2 separate regions of the Homo sapiens genome follow, and region 2 is linked to region 1. The links come from fine-mapping of genetic effects on plasma protein levels. A gene starts in region 1. The other region holds a variant in brackets. All regions are shown on one strand. Distances are from middle to middle.

Region 1 (8,323 bases):
CCCAGGACCTAGAAGGACTCCTTCCTGTCAAGCTCACAGACGACTTCATCCCCATAAGAAGGGCTTCCAGATCAGCGACAGCCAATGCTGTGAGCGCCACCAGGGAAGGGGGGCAGTACAGCCCTGATTACAATCAGCAAGAAGGCTGCTCAGAAGGCAGTTTCCGCCTGCTGCTGCAGAGCTTCGAGGAACAGACTCCACACTCCCTAAGAAACCCTCCTCTGCCATCACTTCTAGCAACGCTTCCTGTTTTTCTCTCTCACCCTGGGTGGGGTGCTGTGGCCTCCCAGCCAGGGAGGTAGGCAACAAAGGCCCTGCTCAAGCCCAGGTCCTGGCCTTGTCCAATCAGACTCTAAACAGCAAATGCCGGCCCAGAAAAATGCAGGGAAAGCAAACTTCAGGGTTTGTGGGATTTTGAAAAGGCAAGAGGAGAAGGAGCCCTCTATTCATTCTTTATTTAGCAAAAAGTGTACGATGGAACTTTTTTCCCTAGACCTGAAGTCAAGGTATACACATACACACATGTAGAGTATGAACTACCTATACATACACACATTCACTTAATTATATGTATTATCGCCACTCGCAATTATGCAGAACGTATTTTGGAGAATGTATTATTGGCCTCATTTTGCAGATATAGAAACTGAGACGCCGAGAGGTTAAGTCTGGCGACCAAAGAGAGACAGAGACAGAGAGACGGGAGACTAGAAGAGGCCCCACGCTGTACCCAGATATTGGCAGAGGCTGAGGGGCACGGAGTGGTGAACTCTAGTCAGTCATTTCAGCCAACCATGGGATTTCAGAAAACAGCCGGCAGGGGTCCTAATGTTTGGGGCAGGAAGGGGAGGTGCGGGAAGGCACTGAGGGACCCCCGCACTGGGCGCCCCTTCCCCACCGCAGAGACAAGCGGCAGTTTCCACAGCAGCCGGCAGGGGGCAGTGCACCTTGCCTTTTCGAAGCCTCTGGGCGCTTGGGCAGCGCGGGGTAAAGAAAATCAGGAGGCTCCGCCCGCAGCTTCTACGAACAGGCCAGGAGTAGAGCCCCCGCACGTAGTAGGTGCTCCAGGCACGTCTAGAAGCCTAAAGGGCTTGGTCGATACATTTGAACTCCATTTTAGAGACTGGAAGGGAAGAAGGGGGCGTCCGGGCCCCTGCCAGCACCTTCCACCTTGGGGCCTTGTCAATGAACACTGCGTTAGCACCTACGACGTGCCAGGCGCCCTGGCGACTATTGGAAAACCCGGCTCCCCTCTCACCCCGTTTTCCTCGTTGGCGAGTCGGCCTCGCCTCCTCCTCCCGTCTCTTCCTCTCACCACACACACCCAGCCGCAGAGCGGGGGTGGGCGCTCGCTGTCTCCCTGGAGAACCAGCTCGTCGCAAACTTGCGGGGCTTGGGGACCCGCGAGGGGGAGAAGTCGGGAGAGGCCAGGGGTGCCCGGAAACAATCACGAGAAAGCCGGGCGAATGCCTGATGCAGGGACGCGGCGAGCCAGTCACTGCCCTCAGGGTCACGGCTGACTCCCTCTGCGGGACTCGCCCAGCCCGCGAGACGCAGTGACCTGCCCAACCCCCACCCCCTTGCGCGCTTCTGGGTGCGCACGTGTCCCCTCGCCCAACACACCACCGAGCCCCGCGCATGGTACGGCCGCCGAGGACCCTAGCGTAGGAGGGAGGAGCGAGTCAGGGCTCCAGCTGACGAGCAGAGCCAGACGATCCCCACACGCTTCCTGGGAGACCCGGCTGCAAGGCCAGGCTAATGCGCGCTCCGACGTCTCTGTGCCAAGCCGGGGCGCAAGCTCAACCCCCATCTCAAGTTCAGCCGCGCTTCCTCCCGCAAGGTCACGCTTAAACACTCGCGCAGAGAAAGGAGGAGCGGAAAGTTGCGCCACCGTCCCGATTCCAAACTAACTGTACCCTCACCAGAGCGCCTCGCCCCAGGGTCACCGCTGTCCGTCCCCGTGCGCTCCCAGAAGGGGTGGCCCTGCCCCCACGCAGGTCACACACACGAGAGACACAGGCAAGTTGCTAACTTTTGTCAGATTATTTCTTGGGAGCTGCGACGCCTCACGGGGTTGGGGCGGATTCAGAGTTTCGAGTTGCCACTAACACGACTCCGGCCGTGCTCTCCTTGGCCCACCCGCGTCCCCCACTGTCCGCCACGCCGCGTTCAGCTCTCTTGTCCCGGGTGTCAACTTCACCCCCAGATCCGGAGCAGCGCGCTCTGACGGCGTCCCCGGGGCCGATAGCCACCTCCCGGATCTGCGCCTGCTTGCAGCGGATTGGGGGACTCGATCCGGATACTGTCCCACGGCCGCTCGTCCAGAACACTGGCGGCCTCCGCGGTGTCCCAGCCTGTGACCCCAAATCCGCTCGAGAGCGCCTGAGCCCGGCCACCCAGCGAGGTCTCCTCCCACGGGCGGCCCCAGCGGAGGAGATCCCAGCCCGGCGCCGGGTGCAATGTCACTGGGGCTGCTTTCGGGAACCGCTGCCCGGGACTTGGCGTAGGTTCCCCACAGAGCTCCAGGCAGCTCCTCCAGTGTCGGCCGAAGACCCCTAAGCCCGAACCTCCACCCCGACCTTCTTCCTCTCCCAAAGCCCTGGGTGGTCGCCGCTGCCAAGGAAGGGGTCTCCCTTCGAATGTCTTCCACTAGAATCCCGGGGTCTTCAGTCCCAGCTCCACTGTCACACCCTCCTAGTCCCCTCCCCACCCCTTCAGTTCCCGGGTCCAGACAATCAACCTTCCACTCCGAGAATCCACAGGAAACTGCCCGAGCCCCAACTCAGGCGGACGCAGCCCCCGCGCACCCCGAGCAGGGTTCGCCTCCGCGCGCGCACTCACCACGGCTGGAGACACGCTGGAGTTTCCGGGATTTGGGCATGAAGGGGTTCGGAGGAGAATACAGGGGTGTGGGTGTCCCGGACACTTGCCCCCTTCCCAGCTCACATCGCCTCTTCCTTCTCTCTCCGCTCTTCTTCCTCCTCCTCCTCCCTCCGGTCTAGGGCTCTTTGTCTTTGCAAAGTGTCGAAACTGTCTGGCATAGTGGGCTCCGCCGGCGGAGGCTGGAGCCGAGGAAGCGAGGAGGCGGGATGAGGGTGGGAGAGGGCTCGGGAACACCTTCCCCCGGGTGTAACGGGAGTGAAAGGCGGGGCGACCGAGGAGGGGCCGCCTTCCCTGGCCGGCCGGGGCCGGGTGCCAGGGCGCGCCAGAGCCCAGCCACCGCCTCCCCTGCGCGCGGCCCTCCCCTTCCTCCGCCCAGTGCCCGCCCCTCCCGACTCTGCGCCTCCGTTCGGCCCCGCCCACCCCAACTTGGCTCGGCTTTCCCTTGGCTCCGGGCTTCCTGCAAGCCGAATTTAGCTCTGCCAAGCCACGTGGACCGCAGCGGGCTCGGCAGAGGCCGAGCCTGGGAGACGCCGGAGGCGGCGGCTGCGGCGCGGGGACCTGATCGGCGCCCCGAGAGGAGCTCCCCGCTCTCTGGACGCGGCCCTCAAGCTGGCGGGGCTAAGGAAGAGCGCCCGGGAGGCCCGGGAGCCACTGGGGTCCGTTTCAGCAGGAAGACGGGCACGCACCGAGAGGATGGCAGTGCCCAGAAGAACTCGAGTCGGGGGCACGGTGGGGAGAAGGGGCCGATCCCCTGCTGGCGACCGGGCAGAGCCACCCACTTCCTCTAAGGGCGCGGGACTCGAGGTGGGATTTAGGGAGGGGGAAGGGAGGAGCGTGGGCTGGACGACTCTTGCGGCCAGAACCGCGTTCAGAGCCACAGAGCCGGGCACTGCGGCCGGCCCTGGTCCCGGCCCCGGCCCTGGCCCAGCCCTTGCCCTGGCTCGCCTGCCGCCGCTTTTTCCTTCCAGATGCGGAGGCTGCGGCTGGAGCTTGGGGTTTGCGGATTAGGCTTGCAGTTATTCAGCCCTCCCTCTTTTACAGGGAAGCGGGGGCGGTGGAGACTTCTTTTGCTGAAAGGCAGAGTGCAGCGCTTTGATGCTAAATGCAGTACACAAGTCATGTAAATCTGGTTTTACGGTTCTTAACCCCTTACTGAGACTACCTCTTTCGCAACTTTTCGGAGGAATGTTAGAGGAAAGAGGCACAGTTTGCCTTTGGGGTCATTGCATCCTTCCAGCGCCCCTTGCTCCAGCTGGAGAGAGATCAACCTTTTGCAGTGGAAGGGGAGAGTCCCCCAGCCTTTGTTTCATCAGACGGCTGCTGTAGTACAGGGATTCAGGCCAGGGCCCGCATGGCCGGACTTCTTGGTTCAAATCCTGCACTGCCACTCAACGGATGTGTGAGCTTGGGCTAGTGACTGAACCTCCCAGCCTAGGTGACTCTGTGCCTCGGTGTCCTCATCTGTGAGAACCGACCTAAGAAGTGTCTGTCTGATAAAGCTGTTGTGATGAGTTAGTGAATTCGTACACATAGAACCTTTAGAACTGTCTTTGACATGTAGTAAGTCAGCTGTGTAGATGGTGGGTTTCTCCAGTGTCAGGTCCCTGCCCACAGCAGGAAGATGACCTGTGCTAGAAGATGGGGGCTAGGGTGTTGGGGAAGACTTCAGGGACTTGGGAGAGAAAAGGAGAAATATTCAGAGATGAGAAAAGTAGAAGAAAAACCAGCTTTTAAAAGGGGGAGGAGAGAGAATGAGAAAAATAACTACTAGAAAGGGAAGGAAAAGATGAATAGCCTTTTAGGTACTTCGGGACCTGCTCTGAGACCTCTTGCCTGACGCCCTTGGTTTTTGATAGAATTCTAGAGAAGGGGTGAGCCCTTTTGTCTGCCTGGACACATCCTGTGGGCTTTCCTCTTTCTGAAACTCAGGTCAAGGTGTTCACTGCATCTCCAGATTGCTTGTGTGCATGGGAGGAGGGGGGCAGAGAGTTCTGCTTACATCGGCTACTGTCCCCTCCACCAGCAGCGTCTTCCAGCAAAGAAGAGCTTCTAACATGCACCAGACTTTTAGCTTTGGCTGGGAATATCGTCTGGGCCAATAAAGAGTTTTTGGATGAAATAACAAAAGTGTTGTTTATTGTATGGATCAAATAATGTATGGGAACATATTCGAAAAATAGAAAATGCTATACTCATATAAGACTATGCTACTATATCCTAGTAGATTCTGTGGAAAGAGGATCAGATTTGGCAAGTAAGGAGCCCCAGGTCATCCAGCTGTTGCACTTTGCAGCCAAGAACCAAAAGCAGCTCAGTTTTAGCTGAGTTCTTACTGTATGTATTCCACGTGCAATACTGGCAGTGCAGTAGTTTTGTTTATACCAGCATCACCACAAACATGTGAGTAATGCATTGAGTTGATGTTCTGATCACTAGGCACAGGAGTTTTTCAGCTACATTAATATATTGTGAGACCACTGTCTTACATGCATGTGGTCCATCATTGACCAAAATGTTATCCAATGCATGACTATATATGTGAATAGTGTAGATTGTATGGGTTCTGCCAAACAGTTCTGCTAACGCAAATCCCACCAAGATTCTCAGGGTTGGAGGGAGGCTTCAGGACCATGTCTTGGAAGTTCCCCTGGATGACTCCATAGTGAGATGGAAATTCCTTATTAATTGACATTGTGGTGAAACACACATAAATCACCACCTTATTTGAATAAAACATTGTACATCAGATGCATCTTTAGTTCATCTCTGAAGGGTTAACCTGGGCAAGGCCTTTTCTGAAAGCCCCACTTTCTTTCTGTTAAGTTTCTTCCCAGGTAACAGGGACAGCCTCTCCCTCTCCCTTTTTTTCCAGAGTTTTGACATTCCATGCAAGTAGCTCTCTTAACACCCCCTTTTAGGACCCTTGCCAGGGGCTGTGTGTCAGAAGTGTGTGCATGCATTCCTCTTTGTCACCCTGAGTGTATGTCCCATCACATCCTGCCAGAGAACAAGGATCATAGTCATTACTGGGAGTGTCTTCACAGTGGGTCTCCAGGGAGCGCTGACATTGATTTACTGCATGCTGCCACCTCCTACCTTTTGGAGCACCAGCAAAGCTCTCAGTAATGATGGTTAAGGAAATTGATTTCATCCTTTCCCTACCCCCGTTTCTTGGCACAGCAGAGTGGAAAGATCCTAATGGGTTCTGGTCCCATTTGGGTGATTGTGCAGAAAAGAAAAGGGCTGCACCACTTGTCAGAGATGAGTTCAGAGGTGCTGGGCACAGCACATGGTGTTTTGTGTTTTAGACAGTGTTTTCCTTAGGGCTCTTGGGACTGTGAGGAACTCACTCAAGTTTCTTTAGAAAAAAGAGTTTTAATGTAGAGATGTGCAGACTGAAGCTGAAAACAAGCTGCAAGGAGAGAGAGCCCATCTCTGTGTTTCTGTCTCCCTCCCGACCCCCACCGCTGCCCCCCCTCCCCCTCTCCGCTCTGTTCTCTCTCTGCCCACAGGCTTTCTCTGTTAAATCCTGGGGTCTGTTCTAAAGTTTTCTGCATGTTTATGGCCTCAGCCTTTCTGCATCCTGGCAATTGTGGAAATAATCTTTTCAGCTTCACTTCCCACTGTGGTTCCACCAGGTGTTTTAGTTTTTCCAGGAGAGGAATCTGACTGACAGGCCTCATCTACAGAGTCATGAATCACCAATCCAATACTGGATGGACTGCCCAGGCAGCCTGAGCTCATCCCATGAATGACTGTGCAGAAGGACAGTCCTCCAGGAGATGATGCATTAGAGGGAGTGTAGGAGACATGGTCCTGACTCTGAGAATCTTGGCAGGCATTTGAGTTAGTAAACTATTTGGCAGAACCCAGCCACACTTCTCACATGTACAGTCGTTCACTGAGTAATGACGTTTTGGTCAAAAAAGGAATGCGTATATGAGAGTGGTCCCCTCTGATGACACTGATAAATTCCTGTCACCTAGTGGTGTAGCTGGCATAACATCAACTCCGTGCATTACTCATGTGTTTGTGGCGATGCTGGTATAAACAAACTTACTGCACTACCAGTATGGCACATACAATATGTACAGTATATAATACTTGATAATGATAATAAACAGCTATGTAACAGGCTTATATATTTACTGTACTATACTTTAAATCATTTTAGAGTGTGCTTCTTCTGCTTATAAAACCAAGAGTTTACTGTAAAACAGTATTCTGTGTCATACCGGCAGTAGCCTCATTCATCTCATTTTTTTCGATTGCATCATTTTCTCTTGTGCTTGATTTAATCTCATGCTGTTTTGTTCCTCACGGTCCCTAAGCGTACAGAATCCATGGCTAATGTTGCCAAAGAGAAGCCACATTGAGTGATTGTATTAGTCCATGATCACACTGCTAAGAAAGACATGCCTGAGACTGGGTAGTTTACAAAGGAAAGAGGTTTAATGGACTCACAGTTCAGCATGGCTTGGGAGGCCTCAGGAAACATACAGTCACCACCAAAGGGGAAGTAAACACATCCTTCTTAACAAGGCAGCAGGGCCGGGCGCGGTGGCTCACACCTATAATCCCAGCACTTTGGGAGGCCGAGGCGGGTGGATCAGGAGGTCAGGAGATCGAGACCATCCGGGCTAACACGGTGAAACCCCGTCTCTACTAAAAAATACAAAAAATTAGCTGGGCGCAGTGGCAGGCGCCTGTAGTCCCAGCTATTCGGGAGGCTGAGGCAGGAGAATGGTGTGAACCCGGGAGGCGGAGCTTGCAGTGAGCCGAGATCGCGCCACTGCACTCCAACCTGGGTGACAGAGTGAGACTCCATCTCAAAAAAACAAAAAACAAAAAAAAAAAACAAAAAAAAAAAACAAAAAAAAAAAAACAAGGCAGCAGGAGAGAGAAGAATGAGTGCCCAGTGAAGGGAGAAGCCCCTTATAAAACCATCAGATCTTGTGAGAACTCACTATCATGAGAATAGGATGGAGGAAACTGCCCCCATGATTCAATTATCTCCACCTGGTCCTTCCCACGACACATGGGGATTATGGGAACTACAAGTCAAGATGAGATTTGGGTGGGGACACAACCAAACCATATCAGTGATTGAGCTGGAAATGAAATTAAAAGTGATTAAAGACCACGGAGGTGGAAAATTGGTGATGGTTATTGCTCCCCAGGCAGGTAGGTCGCATTCGATCATAGCTACAATCTTGGGGAAGAAGAACAAAGTGACAGAAGTTGAAACTATCTGCATCATTGGAGGCAATGAGACTATCAACAATTTAAGAAGGGTCTATACCAGATACAGAGAAATTTCTTATGACCCGGATTGAAGACTAGACTGACACACACATGTATTCCACCCAGCCCCACGATGATCCCAGCCAAAACAGAAAGTTTGTGATGCTGAAAGAAAAGGCTGGATTTGACTAGGATG
Region 2 (8,323 bases), 110 kb before region 1:
GGGCGGCCTGGCTCCAGAGCCCCTGTGTGAATCTCTGCCCCATCCTTCCTCTGGGGGCTGCCCTCAGAAGGTCCCCATAGACAGTGTCTCAAATAACTCAACGTCTTTGCTAAGCACAGAGTGACAGGGAGGCGGCAGGGCAGACAGGAGGCCCGGGACTGGAGAGAGGCGCCTGGCTGTGAACCCACCTCCGCCCTCAGCCATGCAGCAGCCCGCAGGGCTGTTCTGAGTTAAAGATCACGCCCATGGAGGTATTGTGTGCCATACAAACTGGGAGGCCTGGTTACTGTGTATACCAATTTTATCTTACAGGCTCGCAACATTGGGTTTCTGAATCTGTTTTTTTTTTTTTTTAAAGGGAGATTAGTGCCAACTTTGGACCAAACTCTTGTCCATCCCTGGGTGTGCCCGTCTCTGTCGGGGGAGGACAGACACTAGCCCAGCCCAATCAGGCCCTGGCCAAGGTGAATTCACTCAGCAAACGTTCAAGCAGGTGGTGCATGTCTACTGGGCCTCTGGAGATGCTTTTGTTTTTACTCCCACATCCCCTCTGAAGGCCAGTGTTGTCGCGCCCATTTAATACATGAGACACGCAGCTGAGGTTCAGAGAACTTAGGTGACTCGCCAGTCACACGGCAGGTAATGGGACTCCTGGGCTTGAGAAGAGGCCTCTCCAAGGCCTACGCTGGGGCTCTCCTCTGTATCCTGAATTCTGGCCATTCGGTAGTGGCGACGCCAACCCAGGAGGCCCTCTGAGTTGGAGTGTTGAAGGAGGCGCAAATGCATGACCCTTGTAGAAAAGCAACAAACACACCCAAACAATAAAATAGCTCTTTGTTTATTCACTTTGATTTGGATCATTGGAAATATTAAACAATAAATAAAACAGAGCGGGGGCTGAGGAAAGCAGGATCTTGCTGAAGTCATTCGAATGCATCCCAACCAGTGCTCAGCTGCGTAACGACATGGAGAGAGGCAGGGGGGAATAGAAAGCAAATTTAAAAACACCAACACCCAAACACACAAGACTGCACACAAGAAAAAGTGCTCAAGAAACTTTGGCTTTGAAGGGAATTCAGTGAAGGGAAGCGATTGTGCAGGAGGAAGGGAAGAAACCCACGATCACCCTAAGGGGCGGGGGGCTGGAGGGCGAGGCCCTGAGACAGGCTAGGGTTAAAGCTGACGTCCCACAGCTCAGGACGTACAACCGATGGCAGTTTTGTACTAGGAAGAAGCTGAGTGATGAGGCTGGGTGATGGGATCGCTTGACGGGCTGGGAGGGAGGACAGGAGGTGTAAAGGTGGCTCACCTTCCCCTAGGAAATTCAGTGCTCTTTTGGTAAGAAAAAATAGTCGGTAATGCCCTGATCCTGACAAGCTGTGAGATGCTGTCTTGCCTGTCTCTGCCTTTTCTTCTAAGTTTTCCTCCTTTTCTTTGCACAGGTGTCAGGTAGCACCCCAGGGGTGCAGGAGCTGGTGTTTTCATGACAAACAAAAATGGGGAGGTTGACTCTATCTCAAAACTAGCTAGCCCAGTCCACAGGGCAGGATAATCCTGATGGCGTGTAGCCACATTTGCTGCAAACCAGATGTCTGCGATGGATATAATGATACCCCCGGGGCTCTTCTCAGGGGTGAGGACAGGTGCTGGTTCCTGATGGTGCATGGCTGGTGTCCAGTCATCTTTAGCTGGGCAGTGGCCCCTCGAGGCTCGGGCTTCCCTGCACAAGGTATTTTTGATCCTTGCCAGCGGAGGGAGAGAGAGTTATCTTGGTTTCCTTTCACTTGTTTTCGGGCTGCTTCAAAGCAAACATCCCAGTTCCAAATGTTCTTTGTGGTTTGAATCCTGGCAGAGGCCAGGGTCACATCCAAGTGGGACTGGCCTCTAGCACCACCTTCTGGCCACAGCAGAGAATGGGATTCCATCAAAGCCTCTCAACCAGCCGTTTCCCTAAAGAATCACCCAGATCTTAACTGCCCTCTCCACCTTCTTTTTTTTTTTCCCTCCTATTTTACATTCTATTTTCTCATATCCAGCTTTTCTCTCTAAGCCTAACCAAATGCTTTGGTGAATGATGCTTGGAAAAGCTGGAGTTTTAAAAGGCATTCATCCATTTATGAACTTTCTTCCAGCCCAGGATCCCTGCAGAGAACCAGAGGTTACAAATCTGCCCTCCTTTCTCCCCTAAAAGGTGGCTGAGGGGAGGAGAGGTGCATGTAGCTCCAGCTATAGCAAATCAGTGCCCTGACTCACTGGGGAGACCCAGGGGGTTGGGATGTTGCTGACACCTCATGGGCCACCTCATCAGCCCATCTTTGTAGCTTCAGGTTCAGCTCTGGGTGCTGCAGGCAGGGACCCCTCTGCTCCCTGCCTGAATGCAGGGCCAGTCTCCAAGGAACTCTGTCTGCAGAGTAGAAAGAGCTGTGGGCTGGGAATCAGGGGCCTGAGGGAGCCCCTGCCACTGCCTGCCCAGAACCAGTGCTCCTCATTCTCCTGCTGACAGCATGCATGTGCCTTTTGGCTAACACACACTCTTGTCTAATTCCCAGCCACCTTCACCCCAGGGATGAGTTCCAGTTGGTTTAAGCCAGACTGGTGCATTTAATTCTGGCTGCAACAACTGGATTCTGTTAAGTGCCCATTGCTAAGCCAATGAGCTATCTGCTGGGCTGTGGGAAAGAGAAATGCAGTCTCCTGCACGGGAGGGTGTGAGAAGGCCACCCAGGCAGCCTGCAGCTAGAGCTCGGCGCTGAGAGAGCACAGGAGAGTCAGACACCTCCATTCTGGTTACACTTTTTCCAGATGCTGAATGGAGACTCGCTGGGAAAGCCCGCCTCCAGACAATTTCAACATAGCGCCGGTAACACCCTAGTTTTGCTCAAACTCTGACTTGTGCTATCTGTCCCAGACAGTTCACGACTGCCCGTCACTTCCCTCCTTCACACTGCACCAGGAAAAGGCCACACCTCCCTACACAGCAGCAGCCTTTTAGGAAATGTGCTCTACAGGAAAAGTGGTTTTTCTGATTAAACATCAGGAACTAGAGTCAACAATCGCTGTCCTCTCCCGTGCCTGTCACGCTCCACTCCCCACCCAGCTGCAATGTGGCCTTGATTTTCTCATCAGTAAAATGGGAAAGCTGGATTTGGAGGCTGGAAGAGATCTCACAGCTTGACCACCCTAGTAGGAGGGAGGGAGACCAGACGGAGGCCAGGCAACCGACCCAGGCAGCATCTGGCTCAGACGCAGACACATCTTCATGTTGAGGGACCTATTCTTACACAGCAAAACCCAGAGAAGTCGACTGCTCAGCCTGAGCCTGTCATCCCTATATAGACTCAGCTTTTAGGAGAAGAGGGAGAGTTGAGGAGATAGCATCGCTCTCTGTATCAGTGTCTGATGATCTGGAGTCTGCCCCTGGGGTCACTCAGTCACTCAACAAACATTTGTTGAGCTCTTAACGTCATATATGGGTGTGAGCTCTGCCCTTCGAGGCTGTATGTTCTGAATGATGACTCAGTGATTTACCAGCCTTTCTCAGAAAAAAGAAAAGTCTTTAAAGTTTTGGAGGATTTTAAAGCTGAAACAGGTTTTCGGTTTGTTTAACACATTCCCCATTCTGAACCTTTGAGAATCTAATAAAAGCTATGGTCCTTTCTCCAGAAAAATGCTCATATGCAGAGATTCAGGGAAAAAACCAAACTTGGCACGCAACTTCCGGGGACTCTTGTGAATGGCCTGAAGCCACCTGTGACCCATGACTGATGTCCCCAAGTTCCTCCCTCCCCGTGTGCAGAGGGGGCTCCCCCGAGCCTGGGAGCACAGGCCCCATGCCTCCGTCACACTCCACCAGGAAAAAGTCACGCCTCCTCAAAGCAGCAGCGACCTTTTCAGGGATATTTTCAACAAGAAAGTGGTTTTTCTGCTTAAACATTAGTAACTGGAGCCAACAATCACCGTCCCCCACATTCCTGTCACTCTCCACTCCACACCCAGCAGCAATAAGGTTTCACGGAGTTTTGGAGACTCCTAGCCTGAGAATAAATCCAAGTCCACAATGAGGAAGAAGGAAGGTTGGGTTGGGACGGGAGGATGCTGAGGACATTCCACAAACCATCCAAGCCCTAGATACCCCCAATATCCCACGTCCGAGGACTCCTACAAACCTCCCTTAAGCACCCCCACCTAATTTCCCAGCTACTGGGTGAGGCAAGCTTCATTAAAACACCAGGACCACCAACAGAGCCAGGGTGCAAACAATGTCAGTTGAATAAAAAAAAGAAATCAATAAATAATCAGGAAGGCTAATGAGGAAAAGAGAGTAGCTGGGGAGTAAGAAGATGAGGTATGTGGCAGT[T/C]ACCATTCCTGGGATGTCCTTGACCCAGACCCCCAGTGACAGCCCCAAGATGGCCAGCAGGGACTTGACCCTGAGCTCAGGCCCTTGGGGAAAATGCTGCTGGCAGCCTCCTGTGTGGCTTTGGAGGTTACGGGCACCATATTGAACAGTCTGAGAATGAGAATGTACGTTCCATTCTGACGCACTGCTGGGTGGTGTTGAGTATCCTCAGAGCTTCGTTGCAATTCAGGTGCTGGCTCAGGAAACCAGAAAAGATGTTCCCAGCTACGGAGCAAGCAGGGCCGCTGGTGGGGGTCCCTTTTCCCAAGTAAGGGCTTTTGTTTCATTTCAGCCAATGCATGCTTTTCTTTCCCAAATACAAAGGCACATGGAAGTGGTCAGATCCGCTCTCGCCACGATTAGAACCATGAGACTGACTACTCAAAGGAACAACTGCTTGGGAAGAGGCATCTGCAGGAGTCAGAAACACGGTGCCAAGTTTGGGGTTTTTTTTCTTTTCTTTTTTTTTTTTTTTCAGAGACAGGGTCTCACTCTGTTGCCCAGGCTGGAGTGCAGTGGTGTGATCACAGCCCACTGCAGCCTCGAACTCCTAGGCACAAGAGATCCTCCCTCCTCAGCCTCCCTAGTAGCTGGGGCTACAAGTGTGTGCCACCGTGCCTGGCTAATTTTTTTAAATCTTTTATTTTTGTAGAGACAGGAGTCTCACTATGTTGCCCAGGCTGGTCTTGAACTCCTGGGCTCAAGTGATCCTCCCGCCTCGGCCTCCCAAAGTGTTCAGATTACAGGTGTGAGCCACGGCACCTGGCCTCAAGTTTCTGTGAAAATCTTTGGGGTAGGAGCCTCTGGTGGCTCATAAATGAGCTTTGGGAAGATGACAGGGTTATCACGCCAAGCAAGAGGCCAGGCTTCGTGCAAAGAAGGGCAGCATCTCGCCCCGAGCGCCAACACCGCCTGGCACGTCTCTGTGCTGGAGGTAATCGCCACTCAAGTCTCTGCCCATCTTCCTGGGAAACTGTCCTGTCTCTCAGAATATAGGCATCTTCCACATTCATTCCCCAAGCTTGCCCCAGGAGCCAAAATGATTTTAGTGTGTGGAGGTTGAACCTTTCCCAGCGTCTCCCCAGCTCTAGGGCAGCAGTGGGGGGACGTTGTCCCCACTCAAGACAGGTTCCAAGACATGCTCTGCCACGCTGGCAGAGCTTAGTGACCTTGCTGAGTAGATGCTGCCAACGGCTGGGTGCAAGAGGCTGTGAGCGGTGCCCAGGCACACACCTGAGGCTGCCCCTCCAAGCTCCGGGATGGAACGGCTCCAGCAAGATGCTGGGGCTGGAAATGCAGAGGTGTGACAGTGCGTCCATCCTCAGCCCTTCACTGCGTCATCTCCCCTTGAAGATCCGGATTTTATTGATGGAGGCCAAGGTGGCCGTCACGTTAGACTCAAAGTCTGCATCGTGCACCCCCGTCTTGCGAAAAGCCCCCGCGGATGGGTTGTTCTCCCAGTAGTGGTGCCAGTTCCCTTTGCTGTCTGCCCCGAAGCCGTACAAGTCCACCTGTGGGAGCAAAGCAAAGATGAGAACCAGACAGCAGGGCTGCTGGTGGCACCTCTGAGAAAGGAAGCCTGTAGGCGTTCCTGGAATCCCACAGGACCATAAACAGCATTTCCAAGGACTCTGACTAACCCTTCATTAAAAACCCTTCTCTACGTTCCTGGAACTCTCAGAGTCTTGGTGAAGCAAATGCAAGTTAAGTAAAACTCAAGTCTAATTCCAGAAGCACCCTGAGAGATTACTGCATCTGGGTGGTCTCAGGGGCCCGGGTCTTACCTCTGCAGCAAGTGCAACCTATTCTCCCAGGATTGAGGAGCTACAGAGGGAAGGAATAGGAAGGAGGGCGTGGAATGGAAGAGAGTGGAAGGAGAGCAGGGCTTTGGGGCCAAGCAAACTGCCCCAAATCCCAGCTCTGCCACTCCGTGGTGCCCTGGGCATGTGAAGTCACTTCTTTGAGCCTCACTTTCCTCATCTGGAAAATGGGTCCAAGAATCATGATTGCAGTGAGGCAGAGGGCAGGGCTGATCCCTTTCTTCTCTGTGGCCAACATTCATCTGGTCCAGGCGCCCTCAGGGCCACTAGACCAGGCCTTTCACATACATGACAAACCCTGTGCATTTATTCTGAGCCCAGCACCCTGCTGGCTGTACTGAAGTTCAGGCAGAGCTTGATCAGATGCCAGCTGGGCAGCTGCAGGGGGAAGCAGCCTTGGAGCTTATAGCTTCTTGGAGTCACTGACTGAGTGGTCCTTGTTGGAAATGGGGCTAAATTCAGGGCTCCCGCAGCACAGAGGAGGGAGGAGCTATGCCCTGAGAGGTCAGAGGAAGCTCTTCAGAGGAGGTGGCATGTGAGTTGGGTCTTGGAAAATGAGTACAAGATGACCAGAAGGAATTGCATGGAGGGGCTTCCAGGGAGAGGACGTGCTATCTGGGCTGCAGCGTGGAAGATAGATTGGAGGGGTGGGGACAAAGAGGGGACGGGGACAGCACCATGCCACATGTGGCTTTCTCAGGAAATGCAACATGGACATGGGCCTGCTCCAGGGCAAGAACGTTAGGGCCAAATCGGTGGGACGATGGGAGAAAGGGCTCTTGAGCAGAACCTCAAGCAAGGGTCTGGGACCAGCTGGCTGGAGGTGGGTGGGGTGGGGAAATGACAGGGGCACCCATGTTTCTACCTGGGAACACCAGGGTGGGGCTGAGCCTGGGGACCTGCCTTGCAATGCCTCTGACCCTTTCTGAGATTCCCACCAGGCACCAGGCAGGGTGGGGCTGGGGCTGGGCTGAATGAGACAAGAAGGGACACGTGAGGGCCCTGCCTGAACCCAACATCAGGGAGGAAGTGGGGGCTGTGTGGCCTGCCCTCCTGCCCCTCTTCCTGGGGTGGCAGCAAACCTCTCAGAGCATAAGTGGAAACCCGAACACAGCCTAGCGGACAGCGAAGGACATGGGAAGGCAAATGCATGCTTCTCGAGATCACGGGTTCTCAACCTCGGTAGACAGTGGAACCCCTGGGTACCTGGCTCCCATTAATTCTGGTAAAATTGGGCCAAGGTGTGGCTTGGGTGCTGGAACTTAGACCCACAGATGATTCTAAGGAGCAAGTGGGATTGAGAACTGTGGCCTTAGACAACTCTCGCTATGAGAATCCGCTTCTGTATCCGGAATCTGCTGCGAGATCCGAGCTTCCACCACCACGGTCCTGGGCACTTACACAGAATGTGCCAGAACTATTGCTCCTGAGAACTTTCTCATAGAGCACTGTTACTCACTAAAACACCCTGGGAGACACATGTTGCAAGTCCTGTCGTAGAGACAGGGAATCCGAGCTTCCGGAAGAGGCAGGCTAGGTCTACCTGCCCTCCCCCTCCCTGGCCTCTCTTGGGAACACAGGACGGTGAGCTTCGAGGCAGCCCTGTGGGCAGGGGGAGGGTGGCATACCTCATCGCAGACATGCATTGAGAAGATGACCGAGAGGATGCCGGTAGATGGGTATCGCCCGTGCCCTTGCAGCCAGTTGTCAAAGACATACTTGATGAAGGCTGGGTGGTAGATCAGGATCTGCGGGGATGGGAAGACACGGCCCTTAGTGAGTTCTGGGGGGCAAAGGACATGGAGCGCCTGTCAGATGTACATACTGTTGTGGCCATGGAGGCACAGCCATGAGCCTAATAGATACGCCTGCACTTGTGGGCTTCCATGCTCGTAGGAAAGATGGACACTCATCCACATCACTAAGAGACAGAGGTGCTGAGCTAATAAGTGCTATGGAGAGCAATGATGCAGAGGAGGGCCCTACAGGACCGTGTGAGGAGGATCACTGAGCTGACACACAGAAAAATCCAAGGAGGCCAGGGAGTGAGATGGGAGGCTGCTCAGGAGAAGGGGGCTCCAGGGAACAGTGTGAGGTGGGACTGGAC

Evidence for each region. PIP is the chance, under the fine-mapping model, that this variant and not a neighbour inherited with it causes the effect. The UK Biobank Pharma Proteomics Project read protein levels with antibody pairs (Olink). The fine-mapping took linkage between variants from a reference panel, not from the people measured, so its PIPs are less certain.
Region 2: its variant is fine-mapped to the plasma level of the ST3GAL1 protein (UK Biobank, PIP above 0.99).

The regions. Positions count from the first base shown.
Region 1 is chr8:133,568,852-133,577,174 of GRCh38, forward strand. ST3GAL1 (ST3 beta-galactoside alpha-2,3-sialyltransferase 1) reads right to left here and starts at 3,036. Exons shown (of 10, transcript NM_173344.3): 1 at 2,842-3,036. ST3GAL1-DT (ST3GAL1 divergent transcript) reads left to right here and starts at 1,721. Exons shown (of 2, transcript NR_186509.1): 1 at 1,721-2,019; 2 at 2,207-5,005. RefSeq lists enhancers at 796-865, 823-1,676, 1,036-1,255 and silencers at 3,046-3,535, 3,726-3,785.
Region 2 is chr8:133,454,031-133,462,353 of GRCh38, forward strand. ST3GAL1 (ST3 beta-galactoside alpha-2,3-sialyltransferase 1) reads right to left here. Exons shown (of 10, transcript NM_173344.3): 9 at 7,845-7,964; 10 at 818-5,907. The coding sequence ends at 5,734. Among named protein-coding and RNA genes, the nearest start is that of ST3GAL1-DT, 110 kb to the right of the region's middle. The variant T/C (reference allele first, on the strand shown) is at 4,358.